4 separate regions of the Homo sapiens genome follow, and all the other regions are reported to be linked to region 3. The links are microRNA targets in miRTarBase. Many come from high-throughput screens and were not tested one by one. Region 3 holds a microRNA gene; each other region holds the end of a gene's coding sequence.
Evidence for each region. The annotated mature microRNA hsa-miR-4525 reads GGGGGGAUGUGCAUGCUGGUU and lies in region 3 at 2,797-2,817, opposite strand. An mRNA with a match to its seed (bases 2 to 7 or 8) in the 3' UTR can be bound and repressed. Matches are read on the target gene's strand: a 7mer-m8 pairs with bases 2 to 8, a 7mer-A1 pairs with bases 2 to 7 and ends in A, and an 8mer does both.

Region 1: the mRNA of COL1A2 is a reported target of hsa-miR-4525. Seed matches in the 3' UTR shown: 7mer-A1 at 5,984-5,990.
Region 2: the mRNA of UBL5 is a reported target of hsa-miR-4525. Seed matches in the 3' UTR shown: 8mer at 6,064-6,071.
Region 4: miRTarBase lists DPH2 as a target of hsa-miR-4525. Seed matches in the 3' UTR shown: 7mer-m8 at 896-902 and 7mer-A1 at 1,303-1,309.

What each region holds. Positions count from the first base shown.
Region 1 is chr7:94,429,213-94,436,580 of GRCh38, reverse strand. COL1A2 (collagen type I alpha 2 chain) reads right to left here. Exons shown (of 52, transcript NM_000089.4): 51 at 7,151-7,368; 52 at 5,354-6,334. The coding sequence ends at 6,188. Among named protein-coding and RNA genes, the nearest start is that of COL1A2, 38 kb to the right of the region's middle. RefSeq lists a silencer at 356-405.
Region 2 is chr19:9,828,756-9,836,123 of GRCh38, reverse strand. It overlaps UBL5 (ubiquitin like 5), which reads right to left. Exons shown (of 5, transcript NM_001048241.3): 4 at 7,250-7,287; 5 at 6,009-6,159. The coding sequence ends at 6,116. PIN1 (peptidylprolyl cis/trans isomerase, NIMA-interacting 1) reads right to left here and starts at 806. Exons shown (of 4, transcript NM_006221.4): 1 at 722-806. The coding sequence starts at 779. PIN1-DT (PIN1 divergent transcript) reads left to right here and starts at 1,109. Exons shown (of 2, transcript NR_183873.1): 1 at 1,109-1,260; 2 at 1,446-2,045. RefSeq lists silencers at 515-734, 765-1,104.
Region 3 is chr17:82,665,485-82,672,852 of GRCh38, forward strand. MIR4525 (microRNA 4525) reads right to left here and starts at 2,823; the gene lies at 2,749-2,823. All of the region lies in intron 1 of RAB40B (RAB40B, member RAS oncogene family), which reads right to left. RefSeq lists an enhancer at 3,298-3,477.
Region 4 is chr1:43,971,722-43,979,083 of GRCh38, forward strand. DPH2 (diphthamide biosynthesis 2) reads left to right here. Exons shown (of 6, transcript NM_001384.5): 4 at 1-349; 5 at 437-613; 6 at 694-1,648. The coding sequence ends at 818. ATP6V0B (ATPase H+ transporting V0 subunit b) reads left to right here and starts at 3,239. Exons shown (of 8, transcript NM_004047.5): 1 at 3,239-3,386; 2 at 4,079-4,127; 3 at 4,369-4,452; 4 at 4,581-4,658; 5 at 4,869-4,938; 6 at 5,052-5,103; 7 at 5,305-5,495; 8 at 6,260-6,574. The coding sequence starts at 3,320. The coding sequence ends at 6,286. It overlaps LOC124904167 (a long non-coding RNA gene), which reads right to left and starts at 3,144. Exons shown (of 2, transcript XR_007066053.1): 1 at 2,722-3,144; 2 at 1,644-2,166. RefSeq lists enhancers at 1-176, 1-1,161, 2,392-3,225, 2,808-2,927, 2,978-3,027 and 3 more and silencers at 3,278-3,327, 3,728-3,777.

The DNA.
Region 1 (7,368 bases), not on the chromosome of region 3:
GTTCCATATAATCCACTCACCCTTTACTTAAATCCTCAAAGGTGCTCACTTTATCTCGGGGCAATATTTGTAGCATCGGACAGCTCTACTCATCCAAAAGTTCATTCTTTGAGATTATGTTTGTTTCTTTGTGGCTTCCACTTATTGGCTCCATGGGAGAAATATTAAAGATAGATCAGAGAGGGAAAGTAAAATAGGGAGTACTGAGAACATGAAGGTAGACCCCTGTGGAAGTTGAGGAGAAGGCTGTGTGTCTGGAGTTAACAGGATATAAGCACAGGAAGCTGTTCTATTTTCTCCCCTTAAATTGGAATTTTCATTCTCCAATGGTATGCCCGCGGCACTGTTAAAGGACTGAGGTGTTCTGTTATCCAGCCAGCAGGGGGAGCATTGAACTCGAATTGACATATTGTAGCGATAGAAAGGTCCATCCACTTGGCACTAGGTGTTCTTACTCTGCCTAGCATTAATAGATTCCATTTTAAAGATGTTGTTTAAGTTTTATTTCATCATTATTGTTGTTAATTAAGCCATTGGACACCAAGAGCAATACTACACTACAAAAATATGTTCACTTTGATAGTAAAAATGCATTGTGTGCTTTGCTTAAAAATGTCTTTAAATTTACGGTGAATCTCAATTTTAAGGATACCTTTCTAGATTCCAGTAAGATTGTTAATTTTGGCCAGAATTAATCCTATGTCTGGAGCTCAGAATAATAGGTTTGCTTTGGAGCAATCAGATGAAAAGATTTGGTTCTATTAGGTGATTTGAGGATCCCTGGAAAACAATTACAGTATTGTCCTCAAGACATTTTACAGTGCCAGAAATTGCAATAATTTTTAGGTTAAACTCTATCACTTTTCAAAATTAAAAAAACTAATACAAGCACATTTTACCTAAAAGGCATAGCTCAATTAATTGTCCCCCATTACTGAGTTTGTTTGCTCTTCTTTAAAAAGATTCTGAAGATTGGTGTATTTTTATGTTACAAAGTACAGGTCATAAGGTATATGTCAAGCCTAGTTAAAGCGTAGGACAGAGGACTCATACCAGAAAAGTGGAAGAATAAAAGACAAACCATTATTTACATTTGGACTGGTGCTGGTTGGTTCTCTCAGGTCTTAGGGTAGGAGAAGCAGCATGTTCTGAGTAAGACACCTAAGATGAGATATGAAAGTCATAGTTCAAGCCGGGTGCAGTGGCTCACACCTGTAATCCCAGCACTTTGGGAGGCCGAGAAGGGCGGATTACCTGAGGTCAGGAGTTCGAGACCAGCCTGACCAACGTGGCACAACCTGTCTCTACTAAAAATATCAGATTAGCTGGGCATGGTGGTGCATGCCTGTAATCCCAGCTACTAGGGAGGATGAGGTAGTAGAGTAGGTTGAACCTGGGAGTTCAAGCTGTAGTGATCCAAGATCGCACCACTGCACTCCAGCCTGTGCAACAAGAGTATAACTTCATCAAAAAAAAAAAAAAAAAAAAAAAAAAAAAGAGAAAGTCATAGTTCAGAAAAGTCCAGGGTTTAGCGATGTGGATAATACTTCTTTTGTGCAGTGGCTTATAAAGTCTAATTGGGACATGGACCCCTAGGAATATCAGATGAAATTTGTGGACTTTTCTTCCAAGAAAAATGCACATACCCACAAAGTGTATTTAACATGTGATTTCAGGAGTTCATTGATGCTCCTCCTCCCCTGAAGACCATCCTTGTTTAGTGCAATACTCTCTAAAATGGAAGGGGGTGGTGCATGCATCCCAGGGGCGTGCAGAATGATCCACTGGACTATGGACCCTTCTATGTGTATTTATTTTCTGTCTTTACAGATTTTTTTTCTGTAGAGGTTTTATATTGCATATACTAGCACCATAATATATACATAACATTTATATATAAGTAAGTAAATTTGTTGTAAGAACTCAAATTTTTACTGATAAGGAGGCATAACTCAAAATTGATACACTACCACTTTAGAGAGTGGTGCTAATTAAGTGTAAATTCTACACTCTCTTCTTCCTAAATTAGAGGGCCAGTGATCAGAAAATAAATCAAGAGGCTACCACCAGTGGCCAGGAAATTTTGGACCTAGTGATGACAAGTCTATTGTGCATACTTTACTCAGCACTTTCACACATGCCTGTTTTGGTACCCCCAGCAGTTCTGTGAGATGATATGTGTGGTAATGGCAATCTCTAAGAGCAGGCATGTTAACTAAAGCAGGCATGTTAACTAAATTCTCAAAAAACTTAAGAGACTTTCCCAAGGGCCCTGGGCTAGTCAATGGCAGAGCTGATACTCATAGCCTTGGCTGCTGACCACAAATTATGTGCTCATTTCACTGAAGAGCAGGGATAAGTCGCTCATTATGGGTTGTCTATGGCCCCATTGTTGGACTTACTAGTGCTCCCTAAGGATATGGAGTTGTCGAATCCCTGGCTGATCCAGGCACAAGGATAGAAAACATATTTTAGCTACTTGATCAGAGGGTTAGGAAGCTGAGCTAACAATTCAGCACTAGCTCTCTCCTGTTGGTACTGTAATACCAACATATTTCAAAATAGATAGAGGACTCTGGAAGGGTTTAGATACATCTATGTACAAAAAAGATTTACAATGGGTTATTAAATGGGAGTTCTGAGGCTGGCTTCACAAGAAGTGCCAACTGCTCTTTCTCCCAAATTTCCCCTGGTGCCACTGTCAAAGGCAAAGTACTCATCTAGATGGATTTTTGTTCTGACCCAGAATGACATTTCCAACTTTTCTTATATATAATCCAATTTCTGAACTTCCTTTACAGTGATATTAAGTGGAATAGCATAAAAAAGTCTTTTGGCATTAAAGATAATAAATGTATTCAGCATTGCTCAGGTATCTTTGCTCTTTGCCAATGCATTAGCTGTATTGATTTTAGAATTTTAAATGACCCTTTTTACTAGACTTGATTAATGTCCCCTCCCTAGATCTTGGCTACCTGCTTCTTCTCTCTTTCATGTGCAATTTTCTTCCCTTTCACACTCCTACAAGTTAGAGGTGGCTGACCTTCACTCCACCAAGGGTCAAGAAATGTTGTGAGGAGTATGCTTTGGGCCTGGTGATCAGCCTCTAAAGAGTGGGCTCGTCATGGAAGGGCCAAGTCTTCAGTCTATTGCTCTATGTCCACATTTGAGTCTAGGCCCTGGGAACACTCACAGTGGACCTCCTGGCTTGGTAAGTACCAGGCTGTTTTAATATGTGACTTCCAGAGAAGAAGGATTGAGCCAGAGAGCTTGAAGGTGAAATGAGATCTCTATCAAGAGAGGCCAGTTCAATCCAAATATCAGTTACTGTGTGAGACAAAGGTTAATTTCCCGAGACTCCCTCTAATTAATTAATAGTGTCTTCTGTTATCCTCAGAGGATATGTAATTTAAAATTCTGTTCACACATTATTTTATTCTGCCTCTGGAACCGCACTATAAGCTCCCTGAGCTCCCTGAAGATGCTGTGGCCTGGTAGAGCTTTGTACACCCTCCCAAGCTTCTCTCAGGATGGCTGGTCCATGGTGGATGATGACCCTTAGGCCAGGCTTGTCCTTCTCTTCAGGAAACAGGTGGGTGGGAGGTTGACCACTCCTTCCCTGGAGATGGCTACTCCTGAACCAGATTCTTTTCACTTTTGACTGCTTCTTTCATAATATTTTAAGAGTAAATTTGTTGTAAATAATAATGTAATATAGCTACATTGTTGCAAATTTGAAAATTTTAGGCCTAAAAATCATCCTTAAACTTCTATACAAATGTGCCTACTCTCAGCATTTTTTTACATGTATATTTAAAATATCTAATTATAATGACAGTGTTCTTGAATATTAGATTTTCAAGATTGAAAATTCTATTCTAAGAAGTTTTTCTTTTGTTAAATCATCCTTATAAATGTTATTGGGATACCAAAATTTATTTCACTATTCATCCTATCGTTATCTATTAGATATACTGTAATTTGTTTCCTCATTGTTTACTGGATATACCATAATTTGTTTCCTCATTGTAATCCATTAGGTGTACCATTATTTATTTGACTATTTTCAGTTGTCTCACACTGATGATGATTAAGTGATTATTAAGTGAGCATTGGCTTAGGAAATCTGCTAATTCAGATTCAGTTTGACAAAGGTCATTATTATTATTTAGCATGGCTTTTGCCTCTAGCAGGTACTCAATAAATGCGTTTTATTTTTTTTTGCTATAAGTCTGAGGGTATAGTTCATATTTGATCCAGAGATTTCTGTTTTATCATGTAAGTTTGCATGGTCATTTTAATTACTAATTTATAGAGAGTACCAGCATTCGGATCCCAGGAGTTATCTTTATATATGGTTTGGTCAGATATATATATTCCTTCTTGTCAGACACAGAATATTAGAGCTACAAAGGACTATGGCAGTAACCTCATCAGGTGGTCCTTCAATTGGTGCACATCTGAATTTCACAGGATGCGTAAGAATAGCAATTTCTTACTAAATCTGAATTTGGCAGATGAGGACCAGGAATCTGCATTTTGATTAGGAGACCTTGCTAACTTTTTAAGGTTAATATTACATTTTTACCATGTTCAGTCTTTTGCCTTTAAAACTAATTGAATCTTGAGATGACTTATAACACAAGGCAAATATTACAATCACAATTATGTTCTGCAACAGGAAATAAGCTCTAAATGAATCTTAACATTTTACTTGACACATTACTATGTTTAAGTGTATTAAAGATGTTATTGAAAGGTGCAGGGGAGGAAAATGAACTTGATTTGGCAGGTAGGTGTTCGTGGTACTATTATCCACAACTGTCTATCCTGATTGACAGCACACACATTACCTCTTAACAGGCATTGTATTCAGTTGCCTCAGATTTAAGTGTATGGCATTTTTACTGAATATTTGAAACTGTTTTAGTTAATAGTATTAATTGCTCATAGACCAACTTTCAGCCACTGTTATAAAGTGCTTAATATATAATAAACCAAGTTTCTATAGACCTTTGGTTATAGTAAAATTAGGTCAAAAATGCCATGTTGCTTAAATATTACATATTTTGAGTAGGGCAAATGCTTAATAGTGCTGAAAAGGAATTTTTTCATATTATAGCTATGGAAACTGAAATGCAGAGGCTCAGAGTTTCAAGGTCACTCAGCCACAAGGAACAGAGCCAGAACTGGAGTTCAGCTCTCCTGGGTCCTCGTTCTCTGCTCTTTCTACCACACCAAACTGCCCTTTTTGCATAATTTCTATCTAATCAGAGGCACTTGGTCTAATGGCTGGTAGAGATGCATATTTATATTGCAAAGAGCATTGAAGCAAGGAATTTTACTCAATATGTTCTTTTGGAAAACCAAACATGCTTTATTTCATTTTTTTCACAATTTATTTAAACATCTCACATATACAAAATAGGTACAATTTAATTTTTCTGCTTGCCCAAGAAACAAAGCTTCTGTGGAACCATGGAAGAAGATGAAAATGAGACTGGCAAAGAACAAATGCTGAATCTGAAGAAGATTTGGGCAAATAATCTGCATACTTTTAATTGGGAATAAGATGGAAAATATGAATGCTAAATCAAATTTTTTAAAAAATACACCACACGATACAACTCAATACAGGAGTATTTCTTCTCAAATTCTTCTAGCACCATCAACATTCTTCAAGTATCTGAAATACTATTAATTAGCACCTTTGTATTATGAACAAAACAAAACAAGGACCTCAGTTCATCTCTGTCTAGGTCAGCACCTAACAATGTGGATCACACTCATGGGAAAGTGTTTTGAGGTAGTTTAAACCTTTGGAAGTTTGGGTTTTAAACTTCCCTCTGTGGAAGATATTCAAAAGCCACAAGTGGTGCAAATGTTTATGGTTTTTATTTTTCAATTTTTATTTTGGTTTTCTTACAAAGGTTGACATTTTCCATAACAGGTGTAAGAGTGTTGAAAAAAAAATTCAAATTTTTGGGGGAGCGGGGGAAGGAGTTAATGAAACTGTATTGCACAATGCTCTGATCAATCCTTCTTTTTCTCTTTTGCCCACAATTTAAGCAAGTAGATGTGCAGAAGAAATGGAAGGATTCAGCTTTCAGTTAAAAAAGAAGAAGAAGAAATGGCAAAGAGAAAGTTTTTTCAAATTTCTTTCTTTTTTAATTTAGATTGAGTTCATTTATTTGAAACAGACTGGGCCAATGTCCACAAAGAATTCCTGGTCAGCACCACCGATGTCCAAAGGTGCAATATCAAGGAAGGGCAGGCGTGATGGCTTATTTGTTTTGTATTCAATGATTGTCTTTCCCCATTCATTTGTCTTTTTCTGTTTAAAGAGAAGAAAATAGATACACAAAGCATCACTATTTCTGAATCTGATAATATCTGAACCTTTGATTTAATAAGAACCACTGTTTGGCATGTGTCATTCTGAAGATGTCTGTCCCAGATAAATAAGTTCATCCTTGAAATAACAGTATCAAGGGTGTCTTTAGTGGGAGGGGCTCCCTATCAGTCTAACAAAAAACAAACAAACAAACAAACCAAAAAAACCAACAACATTTCAACACACATTCCAAGTGACCTATCTCTACAAAGTCATTTTTAGGATTGTTGTGTGTATGTCCCTCTATGTGTGTCTTTGGGAGCGGGACCTGGGTGGGTATGTAGTCTTGCTGTTAGTGAATTTTAATTTTTCTTATATTTATAGCATATTGTAGAAAAAGCATTAAAAGTTAAATGTAGGCCATACTAATAAGTAAAATAAAATACACATAACTATAAATTATAGTTTAGGCCACTGAAGTCTCAAGAAATTTTAAGTTCTGGGCACACATTACCATTTAAAAAACATGCTAAAGAAAAAACAATGCATGGACATAGTATACATTTCAGCATTTCAGAAGGCACTATCTGATAAGAATACTCTGAATTTATCATCTGAATTTAAGTACGAAATTAATACGTATAAATAAATAAATATAAAATACATACAAAAACTGAATTTACTTATGAAATAAGTTAGTTCTCTCATTCTTCTGTTCTTTTAACCCCCCTTTAGACCCCCCCTTGGGGGCAGTCTAAGTTAGAACCCCCTCCATCCCACTTCCCAAAGCTATTCCCATATTTCACTATTACTTACAGAGCAGCCATCTACAAGAACAGTGTAAGTGAACCTGCTGTTGCCCTCAGCAACAAGTTCAACATCATTAGAGCCCTGTAGAATGACAGCCTTTTTCAGGTTGCCAGTCTCCTCATCCATGTATGCAATGCTGTTCTTGCAGTGGTAGGTGATGTTCTGAGAGGCATAGTTGGCCAGCAGGCGCATGAAGGCAAGTTGGGTAGCCATTTCCTTGGAAG
Region 2 (7,368 bases), not on the chromosome of region 3:
ACTGCCTAGGTCCTAATCCAACCCCCGGCCCCTGAAATGAATGATCTTGGACGAGTTCCTTCAGTTTTCTGACCTCAGTTTCCTTGCTGGTAAGGTGGAAGTAATAACTACCTGGCTCCCAGAGTTGCGGCAATTCAGAGAGAACTTAAAGCGCTTGACACAGAGAAAAACATGCCCTGTTACTGGCAATATTATCATTGTGGCTAACCCTTAAATCGGGCCTAAGCACAGGGGCCATCGTCTGGCAGAATGTCACGGGCGATGTCGCAGACTCAGCATTAGGTGTACACAGTAGGGGTGTTAGCAGGGGTAGGTTGTGGACCCGAGGCCGGGCAACACCCTACGCCCTTTGCAGGGTACTGGGGTGTCTCCCTCCCAGGGGTGCCCCCGGGCCCAGCAAGGTGCAGAGACGTCCCCCGGGGTGTCAGGTGCATTAGGCCGAGAGGTATCAGCCGGGCCGGCAGGGCCAGGGCCATCGCCCCGGACTCCCCGGACCCTCACCCGCCCAGCCCCCTGCCTCAGCTTCCTCAGGCTTCCCGGCGGCTCCTGAGGCTCGCAGTCCCCACAACAGGGCGGGCCGGGGCCGTTACCCCGGGGACGACGCGGAAGAGCCAGGACCCCATGGGAGGGAGGCAGCGCTGCCGCCGCGCCCAAGGGGCGAGCTCGAGCCCTGCTTACGCGGGCCCGCGCAGTCCCGCCCCAGCCCCGACCCCCGCGGCACCTGAGCTGCGGCTCATGCGCTTCTCCCAGCCGGGCGGCAGCTTCTCCTCGTCCGCCATCTTCCCTCCTGCCGCAGCGCCTGCTCCGCCTCAGCTGCGCCGCCTGTCGCCCGCGCCCGCCCGCCGCCGCTGCCTATTGGCTAGACGCGCTCTGCAACGGGGCCTGGCGGCGACGCCCATTGGGCTCCCTAACGGTCCGGATTGGCTTTCTGGCCTTCTATTGGGTAGAAGAAAGGCTGGGCGGACCCTCCCACGTTATCCCTGCGCCCCGCCCCCGGCCAGCCTCAGCCTGGCCCCGCCCACTCGCTCTCCTCGGCTCCTGAGTGGTCCGAAGCGACGCGGGCCCGCCCTTCTCAACGCCCTTTAGCGAGCGCCAAAAAACTCCCGACCCCTTCTTGGCGCGCGTCGCCGCAGAGCCCACCCAGGCGGGATAGAGCTTATGGATTGGCTAATGCCGCAGCAACTCCCGCCTGCCTGAGCTGTTCCCGGAGGTCCGCAAGCCCCCAGCCCTCCCATGCGGAAGAGTCTGGCTGGTGCAGAGGTAACGGCGGTCCAGGAGGTACTTGGGCGGGGCGGTGCTGCCTCTGCTGTTGCCATAGCAATGCAGTTGCCTTGGAGATGAGCACCTAAGTACCCGATGCTTAAATTTGGCTCCTCCATCCTCCCTCTTCCCACCTGTTTCCCACAGATGTCCAAAGCTAACCCAGCCTCTTTTATTTTTTGCAGGGCTCAACTTTTCCCTAGGCTCTGGACCCAAAGGCCTTCCACGTCCTTTGGAACCTGCTTACTTCCTTTATTCCCTCGCAGTCTGGCTCCTTCCTCCATCCTGGGTGACCAGTGGGTGCCGACATTGACATTCATATAAGAACACGGAGGAGGTGCAGGTGGGAGGAGATGGGCTCAGTTTTAGCCAACTTAAAATAGAGTCTGCAGAGCCCGTGGGACACAGGGGAGGTATTTGGGGACCCAGAGTTGGGGAACTGTGGGTAGATATGGGAGTTGAAGACACTGACAGCAAAGGGTGCAACTACAGTTCACCTAGCATAGAACCCTATGTGACCGTTAAAAAGAATGAGGCTCAGTGAAGTGAACTCATAGGGAAACCTGCCCACAACAAATTAGACGCAGGATGCAGTAGAAGGCTAAGAGAAGTCTGGAGCCAGACTTGGGTTTAAAGCCTGGGACTGACACTTGCTATGCGACCTTGAACTGATTACTTAACGTTACTCTGTACTTCGGTTTCCCAATCTGCAAAGCGGGGATAAGCAATTACATCCTTCTGTTTGATGTGAACATTAAATAAATTAATCCACATAAAGCACTCAAGCCAGGCTCGGTGGCTCACACCTGTAATCCCAGCACTTTGGAAGGCCGAGGTGGGTGGATAACCTGAAGTCAGGAGTTCGAGACCAGCCTGGCCAACATGGTGAAACCCTGTCTTTACTAAAAATACAAAAATTAGCCAGGCGTGATAGTGGGCACCTTTAATTCCAGCTACTCGGGTGGTTGAGACAGGAGAATTACTTGAACCTGGAAGGCGGAGGTTGCAGTGAGCCGAGATCGCACCACTGCACTCCAGCGTAGGTGACAGAGCGAGACTCCATCTCAAAAAACAAAAAAAGTTTAAGTTTTAATAGAACATTTTTTACAAGTATTAGCATAATATTAAAAAGATACTTTTTATAAAGATAATTTTAGACATGGGCAGTTACAAAAACAGTAGGGTTTTCATGTACCCTTCACCCAAACTTCCCTAATATTAGCGTCTTAAATAAACAATAGAACAGAATTCTCAACCAGTAGCGATTTTGTTTCCCAAGGGACATTTGGCAACATCTTGATACATTTTTGGTTGTTACAACACCTTCAGACATTTTGGAACAGGAGATACTACTGGCTACTGGCATTTAGTATTAGATGCCAAGGATGCTGCTAACATCCTTCAAGGCACAGCCCCCACCAAAAGAATTATCCAATCCAAGGGCTGAGTGTGGTGGCTCACACCTGTAATCCAGGGCTTTGGGAGCCCAAGGCAGGAGGATCGCTTGAGCCCAGAGTTGGGGACCAGCCTGGGCAACATGGCAAGACCCTATCTCTACAAAAATAATTCACTGGGTGTGGTGGCACGTGCCTGTAATCCCAGCTACTTGGGAGGCTGAGGTGGGAGGATCTCTTGAGTCTAGGAGTTAAGAGGCTGCAATTAGCCATAATCTTGCCACAGCACTCTAGCCTGGGTGACAGAGGGAGACTCTGTCTCAAAAAATAAATAAATAAATAAAAATAAAAGGCTGGGTGCGGTGGCTCACGCCTGTAATCCCACCACTTTGGGAGGCCAAGGTGGGTGGATCAAGAGGTCAGGAGTTCAAGACCAGCCTGGCCAAGATGGTGAAAACCCATCTCTACTAAAAATACGAAAATTAGGTGTGGTGGCGGGCGCATGTAATCCCAGCTACTCGGGAGGCTGAGGCGGAGAATTGCTTGAACCCCTGGAGTGGAGCTTTCAGTGAGCCAAGATCGTGCCACTGCACTCCAGCCTGTCTCAAAAAAAAAAAAAAAAAAAAAAAATCCAACCCAAAAAAGTCAACAATGCCAAAGCTTAGAAACCCTGCTATAATATAATTATCAACACTAAGAAACCAATATCAATATAATACTATTAACTAAACCACAAATTCCCCCCAATCCTGTTTTCCCACTAGTGTTTTTATGTTCCAGGATGGGTGCTCACTGTTCCTGGAGTGTCACTGTTTCTGGTCCCTCTAAGTGGATAGAGCAAGGAAATATACATATGTATACACACATCTATATGTATCAATATATCTGTTAAACGAAAACCATGAATTCAGACTGATGCCTCCAAATCCAGTCCTACAAGGTTCATTTTAAGCATTCCCATCTCCTGTTTTATTTGTAACTTCCTTCTCCACAGTGAGACACCCAGCTCTCATTATCTACAAGTTTACTTATTTGTTCAACCCTGTTTGTGTGTATTACATGGGCCCATGTGCCCACACCCACACACACAAAAGTAGTTTCAAAATTGCTAAATCATGGCTGGCCCAACGGCTCACACCTATAATCCCAGCACCTTGGGAGGCTGAGGCGGGCGGATCACTTGAGCTCAGGTGTTTGAGACCAGCCTGGCCAACATGGTGAAACCTTGTCTCTGCTGGAAATACAAAAAATTAGCCAGGTGTGGTGGCTCGTGCCTGTAGTCCCAGCTACTTGGGAGGCTGAGGCAGGAGAATCGCTTGAACCCGGGAGGCAGAGGTTGCAGTGAGCCGAGATTGCACCATTGCACTCTAGCCTGGGCAAAAAGAGCAAAACTCCATCTCAAAAAATAATAATAAAAAATAATAATTAAAAAAAAGCACAGAAAAGCAAACTATGGAATGTCATATAAATATTACGGGACATATAATTATCCCCGTATGATAAAAACTCTAGGTTATTCCAGAAAGTTTCTAGAGTCACTCAAATGTATTAATGCCCACCACTGGTGGGAGGAGTGGTATAAGAAATAAGAAATTCAGGGCCGGGCGCAGTGGCTGACACCTGTAATCCCAGCAATTTGGGAAGCTGAGGTGAACGGATCATGAAGTCAGGAAATCAAGACCATCATGGGTAACATGGTGAAACCCTGTCTCTACTAAAAAAAATTAGCTGGGTGTGGTGGCATGCACCTGTAATTCCAGCTACTCAGGAGGCTGAGGCAAAAAAATCACATGAACCCAGGAGGCGGGGTTTACAGTGAGCTGAGATCATGCCATTGCACTCCAGCCTGGGCAACAAGTGTGAAACTCCATCTCAAAAAAAAAATTTTTTTAATTTAAAAAATAAAACAGGACAGGAGCAAGGTTGACACAAAGAACTGTGGCCAGGGGAACAGAGGGACAGTTGGTCTCCTGTCTACTCACACCTAGAGGAAGAATACAGCAAATAACATTATGTGCCAGGCATCCTGCTATTCTAATTGCGTGGTCTCATTGAGATGTGGGTGCCACTGTAGTGCTCATTTTTAGAGGATGAAACTGAGGGTCGCAGAGGCTGAAATCCCACTGCTAAGGATCAATCAAAATTCAAATCTAGTCGGTCTGACTCTTGAGGCTGGGATCATGTAGCCACACTTATAGTGCCACACTGCCTCACTGTCTACTATCACGTTTTGTCTTGAAAAGAAGTGCTAGGGCCAGGCATGATGGCTTGTGCCTATAATCTCAGTACTTTGGGAGGCCAAGGCTGGAGGATCACCTGAGGTCAGGAGTTCAAGACTATTTTGGGCAACATAGGGGAGACCCTGTCTGTACAAAAAATTTCAAAATGCCAGACGCGGTGGCTCACGCCTGTAATCCCAGCACTTTGGGAGGCCGAGGAGGGTGGACCACTTGAGGTCAGCAGTTTGAGACCAGCCTGGCCAACATGGTGAAACCCCATCTCTACTAAAAATACAAAAATTAACTGGTGTCATGGGGCACGCCTGTAGTCCCAGTCTCCTGCCTCAGGTGAGGCAGGAGAATTGCTTGAACCCAGGAGGCAGAGGTTGCAGTGAGCTGAGATCGTGCCACTGCACTCCAGCCTGGGTGACAGAGCGAGACTCTGTCTCAAATAAAATAAATAATAATAATAATTTTAAAATTAGCTGGCGTGGTGGTACACACTGCCCAGCTACTTGGGAGGCTGATGCAGGAGGACTGTGTTGAGTCCAGTTCAGGGCTGCAGTGGGCTATGAACATACCACTGCATTCCAGCCTGGGTGACAGAGCAAGATCCTGTCTCAAAAAAAGAAAAAAAAAAAATGCCAGGAACTGTGGATGTTTAAACATGCTTTAAACTCATTTATACCTCCTCACAATATGCCGATTGAAAGCAGACATGAAGTAAACGCAATTATTTCCAGTGGATAAGGAAGTAAAGGCTTACAGAGGTTAAAAAATTTTGCCTAGTGTCACTCAGCTGCTTGGTGGCAGAGCTGACATTCCACACATGGTCTGTGTGATTTCAGAATCTGAATTCCTAACAATTACATCTACTGTCATTAGCCGGAGGTTCTTTGGTTTATTAGGGTGACAATAATCCCAGAGTCTCTTGACCTTCAGACACCCACAGCAAACCCCAGAGCTCTCTCTGGGCTCCCACACAGACTCCCAGCCTGCTGGTCTACTCTGCCCTCATGGATCCAGTTGATCAGAGCTCTTATTTTAGCAGCTGCATGCTGATGGTGCAGTGATGACCAAACAGCGACTGATCCACCCATCACTAGACAGCTGTCATACAGAGACAACAACAAAGCAACATCTAAGTCTTTATTAAGGTGAGTTTTTACAAACAAGCATCTATCCCAGTGTGGGGGATGAGGATGGGAGAGGAAAGCGGGGCAGGAAGATGAGGATTCTCATCTATTGATAATAAAGCTCCAGGTTCATCCCATCGTGGATTTCATCTGAAGGAAAGGTGTTAAGGAATCCTGACTCTGACTTCCGTCCCCACCCCTCTCATCCATTCACAGCCGGGTCAGGTGGCCTGAGGTCTCAGCCCAGGGCTAAGGAAGCCCATTTTGGACCAGGCCATTTTTATTTGGAGAGAACCAAAACTTTACAAAAGAATTTCTGGCTGGGTGCAGTGGCTCACACCTGTAATCCCAGCACTTTGAGAGGACGAAGCAGGTGGCTCACTTGACGTCAGGAGTTTGAGACCAGCCTGGCCAACACGATGAAACCCTGTCTCTACTAAAAATACAAAAAGTTAGCTGGGTGTGGTGGTGGGCACCTGTAATCCCAGCTACTTGGAAGGCTGAGACAGGAAAATCGCTTAAACCTGGGAGGTAGAGGCTGCAGTGAGCCAAGATTGTACCACTGCACTCCAGCCTGGGCAACAAGAGCAAAACTCCATCTCAAAAAAAAAAAAAAAAGTTTCTGTTCCTTCTAGGCCAGGCACAGTGGCTCACGGCTATAATCCCAGCACTTTGGGAGGCCGAGGCGGGAGGATCACTTGAGGCCAGGAGTTTGAGACTAGCCTGGCATACATGGTGGAACCTCATCTCTACTAAAAATACAAAAACTAGCAGGGAGTGGTGGCACACACCTGTAATCCCAGCTACTTGGGAAGCTGAGGCAGAATTGCTTGAACCCGGGAGGTGGAGGTTGCAGTGGGTCAAGATCGTGCCACTGCACTCCAGCCTGGGCGACAGAGCCAGACTGTCTCAAAAAAATAAATAAATAAAATAAAAATTGTAAAAAGTTTCTGCTCCTTTTGCACAATAGATATGCCTGAGTCTCACCCCACCCTGACCTACTGTCCAGCACTCAGGTGGAGGTCAGTAATAAATATTTTGAACTTGAAGTCAAACTATTTCACCAACCACTCTCCTCCCCAACCAAATAATTACCTAGCTCCCATTTTCTAAGTGCTCACCATGTGCCACGTATTAAGTTAAACACTTAATATGCATAAGCTCATGCAGACTTTAGTTTTGAACAGATAACCGAGGCTGGGTATGTAGATGCTTCCTCAAAAAGTCACACAAAGGATACAGTCCCCCAGAGACACGTGGTCCTTAAAAATCGTGTACCTAAGAAAAAGAGACATTTCAGAGATAAGGCTAAGGAGGCTCTTCAGTCTGTAGGCCAAATGAGGTAGCCAAGCCTAAGCA
Region 3 (7,368 bases):
TTCACACAATCTGCCCGGCTCAGCCTCCCAAAGTGCTGGCATTACAGGCATAAGCCACCATGCTGGAACACTTCTTCTAAAATAAAAAGCTACAATTAAGGGCTGGATGCGGTGGCTGACGCCTGTCATCCCAGCACTTTGGGAGGCTGAGGCGGGTGGATCACTTGAGGTCAGGAATTCAAGACCAGCCTGACCAATATGATGAAACCCCATCTCTACTAAAAATTCAAAAATTAGCCGGGTGTGGTGGCGGGCTCCTGGAATCCTAGCTAGTAGGGAGGCTGAGGCAGGAGAATTGCTTGAACCCGGGAGGCGGAGGTTGCAGTGAACTGAGATTGTGCCACTGTGCTCCAGCCTGGGCGACAGAGGGAGACTCTGTATCAAAACAAACAACAAGAACAACAACAAAAAAAAAAAAAAAAAAAAAAAACTACACTTAAAAAAAATCTTTTTTGAGACAGGGTCTCCCCCTCGCCCAGGCTCTAGTACAGTAGCACAATCACAGCTGACTGCAGCCTCTACCTCCTGGGCTCATAGGCACACCACTGCACCTGCCACCACACCTGCCACCGCACCTGCCACCGCACCTGCCACCACACCTGCCACCGCACCTGCCACCACACCTGCCACCGCACCTGGCTAATTGACAGGGCATTGCTGTGTTGCCCAGGCTGGTCAACCTCCTGGACTCAAGTGATCCTCCCACTTCAGCCTCCCAAAGTGCTGGGATTACAGGCATGAACCACCATGCCTGGCCACAATACATTTTTTTTTTTTGAGATGGAATTTCGCTCTTGTTGCCCAGGCTGGAGTGCAGTGGTGCAATCTTGGCTCACTGCAACCTCGGCCTCCTGAGTTCAAGTGATTCTCCTGCCTCAGCCTCCTGAGTAGCTGGAATTACAGGCATACACCGCCACGTCCAGCTAATTTTTGTATTTTTAGTAGAGATGGGGTTTCATCATATCAGTCAGGCTGGTCTTGAACTCCTGACTTCAGGTGATCCACTTGTCTCGGCCTCCCAAAGTGCTGGGATTACAGGCATGAGCTGCTGCTCCCGGCCAATAAATATTTTTAAAGGGAAAAATATGTTTCCCCGCCCCCATCACCCCCCAGACACCAGTGTTCTGCTTCTTTAGGAAACATCTCCTGTGTTCACTTCTAGCGCTTCCGGATGAGCACCAGGTCTGTCATTGAGAACATGGAAAGAGAGGGTTTGAGTTAAGGGGCTGGAGAATGCCGGGTAGGAGCACTGCCTTCCTAAAACCAGGTACAATGACACGTACAATCACAGGAACCCAAACTGCTTAGTAACAAGACATGACCAGCCTTTGTGGGATTTGCTTGATTTATTTCATGTATAGGATTTACTTGACAGTATCTCTCAAAGCACTAAACCTACAAGAGACAAGCCCTGGCCTCACTCTCGGCTGTGATCGGATGTTGAGTGCTTTGACAAGTATGGCTGAATAGGGAATCAGAATTCTAAAGGGAAGCGCGCCGCTGAGAGGCCGAGGGGAGAAGCAGCGCCGAGGCTCGCACCAGACCTCACCCTGGAGACCGTCGTGGAGCACACGGCCTCTGCAGCTCTCCTTCCAGAGAAGCCCACGATGTAGCCAGTGAGTGCCCAGAAACAGGCTCCTCTAAAAATGCGAGGCTGCGGAGGCCACGGTTCTCAAGCAGCTTCTGCCCCCTCGAAGGGTCTAGAACCCTTGGACTTGGCCACAAGCCCCCCTGCATCCCAGGAGGCAGTGTGCCGAGTTCCTGGTCTCCTGTCGGGCAGAGCGAGGTGTGCAGTGGCGGTGCCACCGGTGGCCTCCCACTTGGCTTGGACAGCTGGTCGCCCACATCTTCAGGCAGGCCTGGGCGTTGCAGCAGCTCTGGGCCTCTGTCCTCCACTTTCCACTGATGCAGCCATGAGCACGTGCATGGCACACCTGCCTGATCTGAGCACACCTGTGCAGCGCCTTCCATGAGATCCCGAGCACCCCTCCCTCCCACAGCTGCTGTGTCCAGCCTGTCCCCTGCCCTCTGCTTCCTCCTCCGGGCCCTGCCCCCTTCCTGGACTCCAGAGGCTCTTTCTGTGGTGCCACCAGAGCCCCAGAGACATGGAGTCCAGGCTTCCCGCATCCTCCTCTGTCTCCTGCTAAACTCCACACTCTGTCCACAGAGACTGCCCATCACGCCACCAGGTAGATTAGACCAAGCAACACCAGAGCAAACTCCCCCCGTCAGAGGAGAGTGATTCAGAGGACAAAAGATACAGCAGCACTGAGAACGCCCGAAGCACCCGCTTTGCAGACGCCACCTGCCCCGTGATGAGGCTCAGACAGAGCGGCCAAGCAGTCCCCTGACCCACCCAGTACGAGGCTTTCCTGAGCTGGCCAAACGTTTGCCACCGAGCCCAGCAGGCACGCTGAGTGCACCGTCTGTCTCTCTCTTCTTGGCATGGGCGCTGACGGGGCACTGATGGGGCCTTTGGGATGTTGCTCTTCCGGCTGGAAACCTCTGTGGCTGCTGAATTATTGTCCTGCATCCAGGAAGAATGAGGTACCCAGACAAGTGGAGGGTGAGCGAGACGAGGAGGAGCTTTACTGAGTGTTAGAACAGCTCAGGGGAGACCCACAGTGGGTGGCTTCTCTCTGCAGGCAGGTCGTCCTGACAAGTGTTCAGCTCTCAGCAGACAGGGTAGCTCTCCGCAGCTGGTCATCCCGACGTCCGCGTTGCTCTGAGTCTGGGGTTTTTGTGGTCTTCAGGGTGGGGAAGTGCACGCTGATTGGTCCACAGGCAGCCCACCCCAACCAGCATGCACATCCCCCCTCTGACAAAAGCACCGAGTCCTCCTTCCAGTCTGCAGGACTGGCAGCCCGGGCCCCAGGCCCCCTTGAAGCTTCAAGGTGTGGCTTCACCAGGGACCTGCCCCCTTCCACCCAGAAGTCTGTCTGCCTCCCACTGCTGTTCATGGCACCCAGCTTGTTCATGCCAAGGGGCGCCTGCAGGCCAGCACTGAGCCACCCTCAGCCCTCCCTCAGCTTCCCTCCCATGTTCAACAGCGCCCAGTCCCGAGGGGGCTGAGGTGGCAAGGGCTGGTGTGTCCGTGCTGCCCCAAGTGTGGACCCACCCGGATGGTCTGCAGCAGCACCTGGGCTCAGCCCCAACTGTGCTCCACGACTGGAGCGGGCGTGGGGAGTGAGGAGAGGCCAGGCATTTGGAGCAGGCACTTCTAAGCCTGCAGGGGGCAGGGGTGGCCTTCCCAGGCCTCCAAGAGCACAGAGACGCCCGCGTCTAGAGCTGCCCCAGGGCAGCGGGCCGCGGCACGCAGGGAAGGCGGAGCTGCTGCCTGATCCGTGGATCGAGAGGCCCAGCCATGCCTCCGCTGCAGCCGGCATCTTGGCAGCAGCCACTCTAGATGGGCCACTGCTACCATCAGCATCTTAGCACCAGGAGCTTGACCTCACCACAGTGGGGCACGCGGCGTAGCCTCCATTGCTGTCAGACCAAAACCACACTGCTGTGGTTTTCCCAGGTGACCAAGTGAGTATCAAGGAAACAGTCCTTTTACAGAAAGGAAAATAGCCAGGCACGGTGGCTCACGCCTGTAATCCCAGTTCTTTGGGAGGTTAAGGTGAGAGGATCGCTTGAGCCCAGGAATTCGAAACCAGCCTGGGCAACATGGTGAGACCTCATCTCTACAAAAAATTTAAAAATTAGGGCCTGGGCGCGGTGGCTCACGCCTGTAATCCCAGCACTTTGGGAGGCCGAGCGGGGTGGATCACCTGAGGTCAGGAGTTCGAGAGCAGCCTGACCAACATGGAGAAACCTTGTCTCTGCTAAAAATACGAAATTAGCCGGGCGTGGTGGCGGGTGCCTGTAATCCCAGCTACTCAGGAGGCTGAGGCAGGAGAATTGCTTGAACCTGGGAGGTGGAGGTTGTGGTGAGCCGAGATCACACCATTTCACTCCAGCCTGGGCAACAAGAGCGAAACTCTGTCTCAAAAAAATAAAAATAAAAAATAAAAAAATTGGCCAATCATGGTGGTGCACACCTGTCGTCCCAGCTTCTCAGGAGGCTGAGGTGGAAGGATCTCTTGAACCCGGGAGTTGGAGACTGCAGTCAACTATGATCGTGCCACTGCACTCCAGCCTGGGTGACAGAGTGAGACTCTGTCTCTAAAAAAAAATGTAAAAGGAGACAAAAACACTTTTCTGGAGCCTTCCAACTAGATAGTTCTACTAGCCCCAGCGCGGGAGCTTCAGGCCCTGTGAAATTACGCTTTGAGCGACGACCAAAAATCTCTTCACAGTCCTTTAAAACCCTACTAAGCTCTCGGGAAGGCACCATCATGTGCCAAGTCCTGCAGCCGTCAGCAATGAACACACTGAGCGTGAAACACAAACAATAAATTAAAAAAGAACATACATATTTGCTCCATAATAGCAATCCTCAAAGAGAATTTTGGAAATATTTATTTTCCCTTGGCAGGCACGAGGCAATGAACGAATACACTTGGGAATCTATTTTCGAATGCGGAGATAACTCCAGCTTTGATATGTCTGTCTCCAGACGAAGGGACACTCACCCCCACGGGCTGAGAGGCTCATATTTGTCTTTCCGGAGATTAATCCACTGCCTGAGCTTGGCTGGGTCCTCTGACTTAGAAAGTATCCTCTTGACCTGTCCTTGAGGGCCAACAATCTTTTTTTTTTTTTTTTTTTTTTTTTGAGACAGAGTCTCGCTCTCTCACCCAGCCTGGAGTGCAGTGACGTGATCTCGCTCACTGCAACCTCCGCCCACCGGGTTCAAGCAATTCTCGTGCCTCAGCGTCCCGTGTAGCTGGAATTACAGGCACACGCCAGCAAGCCAAGCTAATTTGTGTACTTTTAGTAGACACGGGGTTTTACCATGTTATCCAGGTTGGTTGCGAACTCCTGACCTCAGGTAATCCACCTGCCTTGGCCTCCCAAAGTGCTAGGATTATAGGCATGAGCCACCACGCCCAGCCAAGGGCCAAACAACTTTAAAATGTGTTCATAAATGTAAAAGAATTCCTGATTTTTTTTTTTTTTTTTTGAGACGGAGTCTTACTCTGTCGCCCAGGCTGGAGTGCAGTGGCGCGATCTCAGCTCATTGTAACCTCCGCCTCCCGGGTTCAAGGGATTCTCCTGTCTCAGCCTCCTGAGTAGCTGGGATTATAGGCGCCCACCACCACGCCCGGCTCATTTTTGTATTTTTAGTAGAGACTGGGTTTTACCATATTGGCCAGGCTGGTCTCCAACTCCTGACCTTGTAATCTGCACGCCTTGGCCTCCCAAAATGCTGGGATTACAGGTGTGAGGTACCGCGCCCGGCTTCCTGATGGTCTTTTTAAGCGCCCTACGAGTTTCAAAACCATCTTTCGTTTCTGTTTTCATGGAGTCATGGATGCTCACAGTCTGAAGTGCTGTCACGATCCACGATGTTGGACCCTGGCCCACCCGAACCCCTGTCTCCCTTCCCCATTTTAATCCTTTAAAATAACTTCTTTTGCTATGCATCTCCAGATTGATGAAGAACATACTTACATTCCTACTTCCTGACATTTCAGTTTTAGGCATCCACTGACTTTCCACTACAGAAGATGAAAATGTAGCTCTCGGTCACTGACACACCCCACCCCTGTAACTCCAACACACACAGTCACACACATCCTGTACTCACTGACACACCCCACCCCCGTAACTCTAACACACACTCACACGCTCCCTGTACTCACTGACACACCCCAACCCTGTAACCCTAACACACACAGTCACACATCCTGTACTCACTGACACACTTCACCCCGTAACTCTAACACACTCACACGCTCTCTGTACTGACACACCTCACCCCTGTAACTCTAACACACACACTCTCACACACATCCTGTACTCACTGACACACTTCACCCTGTAACTCTAACACACACACGCTCCCTGTACTAACTGACACACCCCACCCCTGTAACTCTAACACACACTCACATGCTCCCTGTACTCACTGACACACCCCACCCCTGTAACTCTAACACACACACTCACACGCTCCCTGTACTCACTGACACACCCCACCCCTGTAACTCTAACACACACTCACATGCTCCCTGTACCCACTGACACAGCTCACCCCGTAACTCTAACACACACACTCACACCCTGTACTCACTGACACACCCCACCCCGTCACTCTAAAACACACACACTCACACACCCTGTACCCACTGACACACCCCACCCCTGTAACTCTAACACACACTCACATGCTCCCTGTACCCACTGACACAGCTCACCCCGTAACTCTAACACACACACTCACACCCTGTACTCACTGACACACCCCACCCCGTCACTCTAAAACACACACACTCACACACCCTGTACCCACTGACACACCCCACCCCTGTAACTCTAACACACACTCACATGCTCCCTGTACCCACTGACACAGCTCACCCTGTAACTCTAACACACACACTCACCCACTGACACAGCTCACCCCTGTAACTCTAACACACACACACGCTCCCTGTACTCACTGACACACCCCACCCCTGTAACTCTAACACACACACATGCTCCCTGTACTCACTGACACACCCCACCCCTGTAACTCTAACACACACACTCACACGCTCCCTGTACCCACTGACACAGCTCACCCCTGTAACTCTAACACACACTCACATGCTCCCTGTACTCACTGACACACCCCACCCCTGTAACTCTAACACACACACTCACACGCTCCCTGTACTCACTGACACACCCCACCCCGTAACTCTAACACACAAACTCACACGCTCCCTGTACTGACACACCCCACCCCTGTAACTCTAACACACACACTCACACGCTCCCTGTACCCACTGACACACCTCACCCCTGTAACTCTAACACACACACTCACACGCTCCCTGTACAGTTTTGTTGCTTTTTAAGCTAGATGGATATTCCATTCTACACTGTCATAACCAGGTGCTATGGTTTGAATGTGTCCGCTAAACTTCACGTTAGAAAGGTAAACCTCCAGTTTGTATGTTGATTGGAGGTGGGGCCTTTGCCAAGTAATTAGGATTAGGTAGGGTCAGCAGGGTGGGGCCCTGATGATGGTACTGGTGGCCTTACAAGGAGAGGAAGACACCTGAGCTGACGGGCTTGCGCGATGCCCTCTGCCAGGTTATGACGCAGCAGGAGGCCCTCCCCAGATGCAGCCCCTCAACCTTGGACTTCCCAGCCTCCAGAACTGTAAGAAATGCATTTATTTTCTTTATAAATTACCCAGTTTGTGGTATTCTGTTACAGCAACAGAAAATGACACCAGGTAGACGCCATCCACAGCTGAACCACCATATG
Region 4 (7,362 bases), not on the chromosome of region 3:
CTGGTAGAGAGGGCCAGAGATGCCCGCGTGGTAGGGCTGCTGGCAGGCACACTGGGTGTAGCCCAACACCGTGAGGCACTGGCCCACTTGCGGAACCTGACTCAGGCTGCTGGCAAGCGTAGCTATGTGTTGGCCCTGGGGCGGCCCACCCCTGCCAAGCTTGCCAACTTCCCTGAGGTGGATGTCTTTGTGCTATTAGCCTGTCCTCTGGGTGCTCTAGCCCCCCAGCTTTCTGGTAGCTTCTTCCAGCCTATACTGGCACCATGTGAGCTGGAAGCTGCCTGCAACCCTGCCTGGCCACCTCCAGGCCTGGCTCCCCACCTCACACATTATGCGGACTTATTGCCTGGTGAGTAGTGGGGGCATTGCCTAAGCTGGAAACCTGGGGCACGGAGTCAGGGGGTGAGTATGGATTTTCTTTCCTCCTCCCTTTCAGGCTCTCCCTTCCACGTGGCTCTCCCACCACCTGAGTCAGAGCTGTGGGAAACCCCAGACGTGTCACTCATTACTGGAGATCTCCGACCCCCACCTGCCTGGAAGTCATCAAATGATCATGGAAGCTTGGCTCTGACCCCACGGCCCCAGCTGGAGCTGGCTGAGAGCAGTCCTGCAGGTAAATGTACAAGTCTCCACTCCCAGCTGAGCTTTTTCTCCAGATGCAGCGCACTCAGACTGAGCCCCCTCCCTCTACAGCCTCATTCCTTAGTTCCCGGAGCTGGCAAGGGCTGGAGCCCCGCCTGGGTCAGACGCCAGTGACAGAAGCTGTGAGTGGAAGACGAGGGATTGCCATCGCCTATGAGGATGAGGGAAGCGGCTGATACCATGTGGGGCTGGAGACATAGATGGACTTATGAATGGCTGCTAGGACCTTTAGTGCTCCCTGCACCAACCTCCCATCCCCCTGCCAAGATCCTTGAAGGACCCTGGAAGGAGGGAGAGCAGGCAGCCCTTCACAGGATAGGATCCGTCTCTGTCCTGTCCTGGCACTGGCACAAGCTCAGCACATGCCCAGTAATGCGTGTTGTTTGGCTGATGGAATAAAGGGCTTAGGGACTTCCCTGAGGCCTCTGGACCCATCTGTCTTCCTGAGGGCAGCCCAGGACCTTTGGCCAATCCCAGTTCCCAGGCTGCAGTTGAGGGTCTGTCCTTGTCAAAAGGCAGGTGCTAGACAGTCTAGACCAGGGTTTCTCAAACTCGTACTTGACATTTGGGGCCAGATAATTCTTTGTTGTGGGGCTGTCTGGTGTATGGTAGGGTGCTCAGCAGCATCCCTGGCCTCTGCCCACTAGACATCAGAAGCACTCCCCCAGTTGTGACAACCAAAAATATCTCCAGACCTTGGCAAATGTTATCTGTGGGGGAAAATTGCCCTCAATTGAGAACCACTGGTCTAGCTAGACCTGCACTGTCCAGTACAGTAGCCACTAAATACATGTGGCTAAACTTAAATTTAAGTTAATTAAGATTAAAAGCTCAGTTTCTCAGTCACATTAGTCATTCAAGTGTTCAGACAGCCACATGAGGGGACAGTGCAGCTACAGGATATGCCATCATGGCAGAAAGTTCTATTGGTTGGACAGCGTTGGTCTATACTGACTCTTATTTCTCAGGGAGATCACAGCAACCTAAATAAACCAGATACCTTTTCTCTTTGTGTTTCTTTTTAATTCATGAAATACTGCAGGTCCTGCACTGGTCCTGGGATGTAGATGTTAACTGTATTTAACCAGATTCCTTTCCAGTGTACCTGGAAAGAGAGTTAAATACGCAGTCAGTACACAGTGAAACAGCTCTATCTGGGAGGAGGGAAGCCCCAGGGACAGCTGGATCCCACAGGAGATACCTGACAAGGACTAAGAGGAGGCTTCCCAGAGGGCATAACACCTATGCTGGATCTTTTGGAGGAAAAAATAATTGTCAGGAGAAAAGGAGTGAAAAAGACCTTTGGGCTTAAACATGAACCAACATGGCGGATGCTTCAAGCAAGTGGGGTTGCTGGGCCCTAAAGGTGGAGAGGGGTGAAATGAAAAGACTCGCCTCTTCTTCCCCACATTTGTTGAGAATCTGGTCACAGTGGCATTGTCGAGGGTATTGAAGGTGAACAAAGGAGATGTGGTCCCTGCCCTCAGGGAATGCCTAGTCTAATGGTGGAGGCAGAGCTGTAAGCTAACAAGGTAACCCAGACAAAGTGGGCATCAGTCATGTGTTCTACAAATATGTACTGAGGACACACTCTGTGCCAGGTACTGGAAATACAGCAGTGAGCGACACAAAAGCCATGGTGCTTCCACTCTTCCAGGGGAGTTGGACAAATAAAATACTTAGTATGCCAAATGGTGATCAGTAAGTACCGTGAGAAATGTAAAGCTGGGAAGCAGAGGAGCGTTTAAGTGGGGTGGAATATTAAACAGAATGGTCAGAGAAGGCCTTTTCAAGAAGGTGAGCAAAAACTGAAAGGAAGTTACAGGATGAGCCGCATGTATAGTTAGGAGAAGCAGAGAGAGCAAGTGCAAGGGCAGTGAGGTCGCGGTATGGTTGGCACGTTCAAAGAAATAGCAAGGAGGGCAGTGCAGCCAGAGGAGGGAGTTAGTGGGGGAATATTAGAAGGTGAAGTCAGCTGAGGGGCGTGGGGAGCCTAGCAGGCTATTGTGAGAACTTTGGCTTTTCTCCTGAATGAAATGGGAGCCATCAGGGCATTTCGACAGGGTAGTGACATCTTACTGAAGCTTAATAAGCATCACCAGGACATCGCGGGAGCCCAGCAAACGCGCTTCCCTGCCACTGGGTTAGGGAAGGCTTGCCGGAAGGACGATTTCGGAGGACAGCAGGTGTTAGCCAGGCAGCGGAGCGAGCGCCAACAGGCGCACTGGGGCGGAGAGACGCCGTGAGCAAGGTGAGGCAGAGGGCACGCGCGGCGCCACCCGCCACAGGCTAGGACGCACGGCTGCCAGAGAGGACGCCTTAGGGGCCCGCGAGCAGGCTCGGGAATAAAACAGGGCTGGCAGGGCGAGGTGGAGAGACTCGAGAAGGACCGGCCAGATGTCGAAGTTCCTAGAGAGGAGGGCGCCCAAGCCTCCGCCGAGACGCGTGACTACAACTACCACAATCCCCAGCGCCTGCGGTTCCAGCGTCGCCTTGCTCTAGACGGGCGGCGGCGCTGCGCGGGGAACCGGCGTGGGGTCACGTGGTACCGGCGCATCACGTGGGCGAGTTAGGTGACGCTGCGGGGCGGGCGGACAGACTGCGGGACGGACGGTGGACGCTGGGACGCGTTTGTAGCTCCGGCCCCGCCGTTCCGACCCCCGCCGCCGTCGCCGCCATGACGGGGCTAGCACTGCTCTACTCCGGGGTCTTCGTGGCCTTCTGGGCCTGCGCGCTGGCCGTGGGTGAGGCCGGGTCCTGGCGGGCGGGAGCAGCATCGCGGCCGAGCTGGCCGGGTCGGAACTCGGCGGGGAAGTGGCCTGCGGGGAATACTGGCCCCCCGCGCGCTCTGCACCCGAGGCTCTGGGGACTTGCGCCTGCGAGGGCCTCTGACTCCGACAAAGGAGACCCGGATTTCCAGCTGCTTGAGGAGGGGTGCGGGCGGGTAGGGGCCGCGAGGGCAGCACTCCCCCGTCCTGCCACTATCGCTGTCTCCCCTCGCTCCCACGTCTCACTGCTGTCCCCCCTTTCTTGCTCCTGACCGGCCCGCTCGGTCACAAGCCGGCTGCTCCGGTTCCTCTTTTCCCAGTCGCTTTGCCCTCCCCCACCCACAGCTTGTTGGGTAAACAGCGGAACGGACTGGGCCGGCGGGATCTGGCTGGAGCGCTTGCTCCCTCGGTCCCGCCTCGGATTCGGGCTTGCGGGTGGCGACCCTGCCTGCGCAGGTGCTTGGTCTGGGAGGTGGTTTTAGCGAGGGAATGGCAGAAAATGGAGGCCTAAGCAGAGGAATCTGTCTACACAGCTGTACTGTCACCTGGGGGCAGCCTGAGGACGCCCCTTCAGGGAGGTGGCCCTTCAGCTCGGCAGCTACTTTAGGTTGAAGAACTTCTCTCTACCGAGCAGCCCGTAACCCCCTTTTTCTCCCTCACTGCTGCAGGAGTCTGCTACACCATTTTTGATTTGGGCTTCCGCTTTGATGTGGCATGGTAAGGGAGGGCAGGGGGAGGATTCCCCTTGAAGCTTCTTCCCTGCAGCCTCTCTTCTTTTCTCTGGTCTGAGTCCCTCCCCCACACCACTGCCTGCCTGGGACATGGACCTTTGGGAAATACGCGGTCAGTTGTTGCCTGTAGAACTGGTGGTGGGGTTGAAGGGGGTTTGAGGGGTTAAGATTTTGTGCTCCGCTTCCCTGCTAGAGCTGAACTGCTTTCTTCTCTGCTTCCACAACAGGTTCCTGACGGAGACTTCGCCCTTCATGTGGTCCAACCTGGGCATTGGCCTAGCTATCTCCCTGTCTGTGGTTGGGGCAGCCTGGTGAGTATTGGGGTGGTGGGACTGGGGGCAGGGGCTGAGTCATGGCAGGTGGTGTCACTGGGGTCTTAGGCATGCTGAGGGCAGTGACAGCTTGGGCTCTGCTCATCAGTTTTTTATCCTTCCACCAGGGGCATCTATATTACCGGCTCCTCCATCATTGGTGGAGGAGTGAAGGCCCCCAGGATCAAGACCAAGAACCTGGTCAGGTAAGTGTCAGGGTCCTTGGACTTTTGTCAGAACCAGCTGTGTTGGCGCTGCCTGTGTGTTTGATCTGACATACTGTTTCTGACAAGCCACCTTGTGGGATGGGATGTTATAGGGGAAAGATTGCTGGGGACTTACTGGGCAGGAAGGACGGTTTCTTTCTCATTTCTTTCTCCTTTCCACTCCTTACCCCTAATCTCTACCACTACCAGCATCATCTTCTGTGAGGCTGTGGCCATCTACGGCATCATCATGGCAATTGTCATTAGCAACATGGCTGAGGTATGGAAGGCCAGGGTGGTGGCGGGAATCCATTCCAGTGTGTTCTACACATTCCTTAGAGATTGGATGGGGTGCATCAGGATGGTTTCTGATTACTTTTCTTCTTCCCTCAGCCTTTCAGTGCCACAGACCCCAAGGCCATCGGCCATCGGAACTACCATGCAGGTGGGTGGATGGGCGTATGAATGCAAAATGCTGGGACTTCATGCCTGCTTCCACTCTCCCCCATCCCAGCTTGGGCCATCATTTTGATATTCTCTCACCTACTTTTTCTGCTTTGCAGAGTGGGGATGGTGATTGGCCCCATTAGCCCATATCTCCCCCATTCCTGGCTTAGCCTCACTGCACCCCTCTCTATCCTCCCAGGCTACTCCATGTTTGGGGCTGGCCTCACCGTAGGCCTGTCTAACCTCTTCTGTGGAGTCTGCGTGGGCATCGTGGGCAGTGGGGCTGCCCTGGCCGATGCTCAGAACCCCAGCCTCTTTGTAAAGATTCTCATCGTGGAGATCTTTGGCAGCGCCATTGGCCTCTTTGGGGTCATCGTCGCAATTCTTCAGGTGATGAATCCCCTTGGGAAGCCTCTGTGTCCTTGTCCCCAACCTAGCCTTACCCTCCTTCTGGAGAAGCTGAAGTGCTCTCCTTCTCTACCTATAACTATAGATTCCCCCAAACAGCTTCCACCTCCTCATTTCCATCTTCTGGTTTTCTCCTACAGGGGCTCTCTATTTTTGTCTCTGATTTGGTGTCACTGACAACAGCCCTGTTCTTTTTCCCCCCTTTCTAATGCGTTGTATCTGTATAGCACTTAGTCCTCCCTCTTTCTGTTCTCTCATTTTATCTGCCATGCTTTTCATGTCTCCAGTCTGTATTTGTGATCTAGACTAGAATGGAATTTTGTCTGTCTATATCAGTCTGTCATGGTGTGTTTGACTGTCTCTCGGAGCTATGTGTATCTCCCTCTCACATGCCTGTCAGTAGGACACCATTGTCTAAATTGTGTGTGTCTAGTCTGTCTGACAGTGTGTGAGTTTGTGACTAAGGATCAGCCTGAGGGTCTGAGTGTGACTGTGGGTGCTTGACTGAGTTGATTCTTAGTGACTAGCTTTATCCATATGCCACTTCTCTCCGTCTGTCCCACAGCGTAACTCTGTGGTTGTCTGTCCCTGTCTGCCTTGTCTGTCACAGTGTGTCCATCCTGGTTAGTCATATATCTCTTGTGGTCTGTCCATCCAACCATGTGCTAGATGTCATCTTCTATCATTTGTCACTGCCTTACCTATTCCTCTGTCCCTGCCTGATTTCTCCTGTTCTTTTTTTGCAGACCTCCAGAGTGAAGATGGGTGACTAGATGATATGTGTGGGTGGGGCCGTGCCTCACTTTTATTTATTGCTGGTTTTCCTGGGACAGCTGGAGCTGTGTCCCTTAGCCTTTCAGAGGCTTGGTGTTCAGGGCCCTCCCTGCACTCCCCTCTTGCTGCGTGTTGATTTGGAGGCACTGCAGTCCAGGCCGAGTCCTCAGTGCGGGGAGCAGGCTGCTGCTGCTGACTCTGTGCAGCTGCGCACCTGTGTCCCCCACCTCCACCCTCAACCCATCTTCCTAGTGTTTGTGAAATAAACTTGGTATTTGTCTGGGTCAGTGCAGCTTCTGTTGCCCTCTTGCGTCACCGTTCACAGAGGAAGGGTAAAGAGGCCTGTACGCCTCAGCCTCATGCCAATCCCTTGTCAGCTTTCTGACTGCACACTTCTGATCTGCACAGAGCTTGCTCCTAGGTGGGGAGGCACGGGTGCTGGGTGGACTCTAACCCCCAAACAGACTTGTTTGGGGATGAGGGAGTGTGCAGATAGGGGCCCCTGGGTGTGTTTGTGCCTGTAGTCCTTCTAGGCCCGTTTGCTCAGGGCTCTGACTGACCACCATGCCCGAATTGTCTGACAGCATCTACTTACCTGGTTGTACAGTCGGGCACCATCATCTCCGTCCTTGTGAGGCCTGGAGCCTAGGCAGTGGTCTCTGCCTCCAGTGATGGTCCTGTCCTTCTAGCAGCAGCCCCTCCCAGAAACCTCTACTCTGATCCTTGTTCCCAGGGCCCAGGGCAGCTCCTCCCACCCCATCCAATCTCGTTTTCTCCTTCCCTGACCCTGTTTCCTGTTACCCCAGAAGCCCCAGCCACCTCCAGCCCACGCCTTTAAGGGTCCTGCCCCCTCTCTGCTGGCCGACCTTGAATCTTGGTCCAATTAAAGAGTTGACAAATCCCTAGCCCCGCAGCCTGAGTCCGCCCAACCTCCAGGTCCCCTTCCTGGGGAGTTCGCGCTCCAATGCAATCCCCACTCCCCGCTAAGGGACTCCACGGTCTGCACCCGCTCGCCGGTCCGACCTCTAAGCCCACCCTTTGGACGAGCCTGACCCATTTCCTCCCGCGCTCCCAG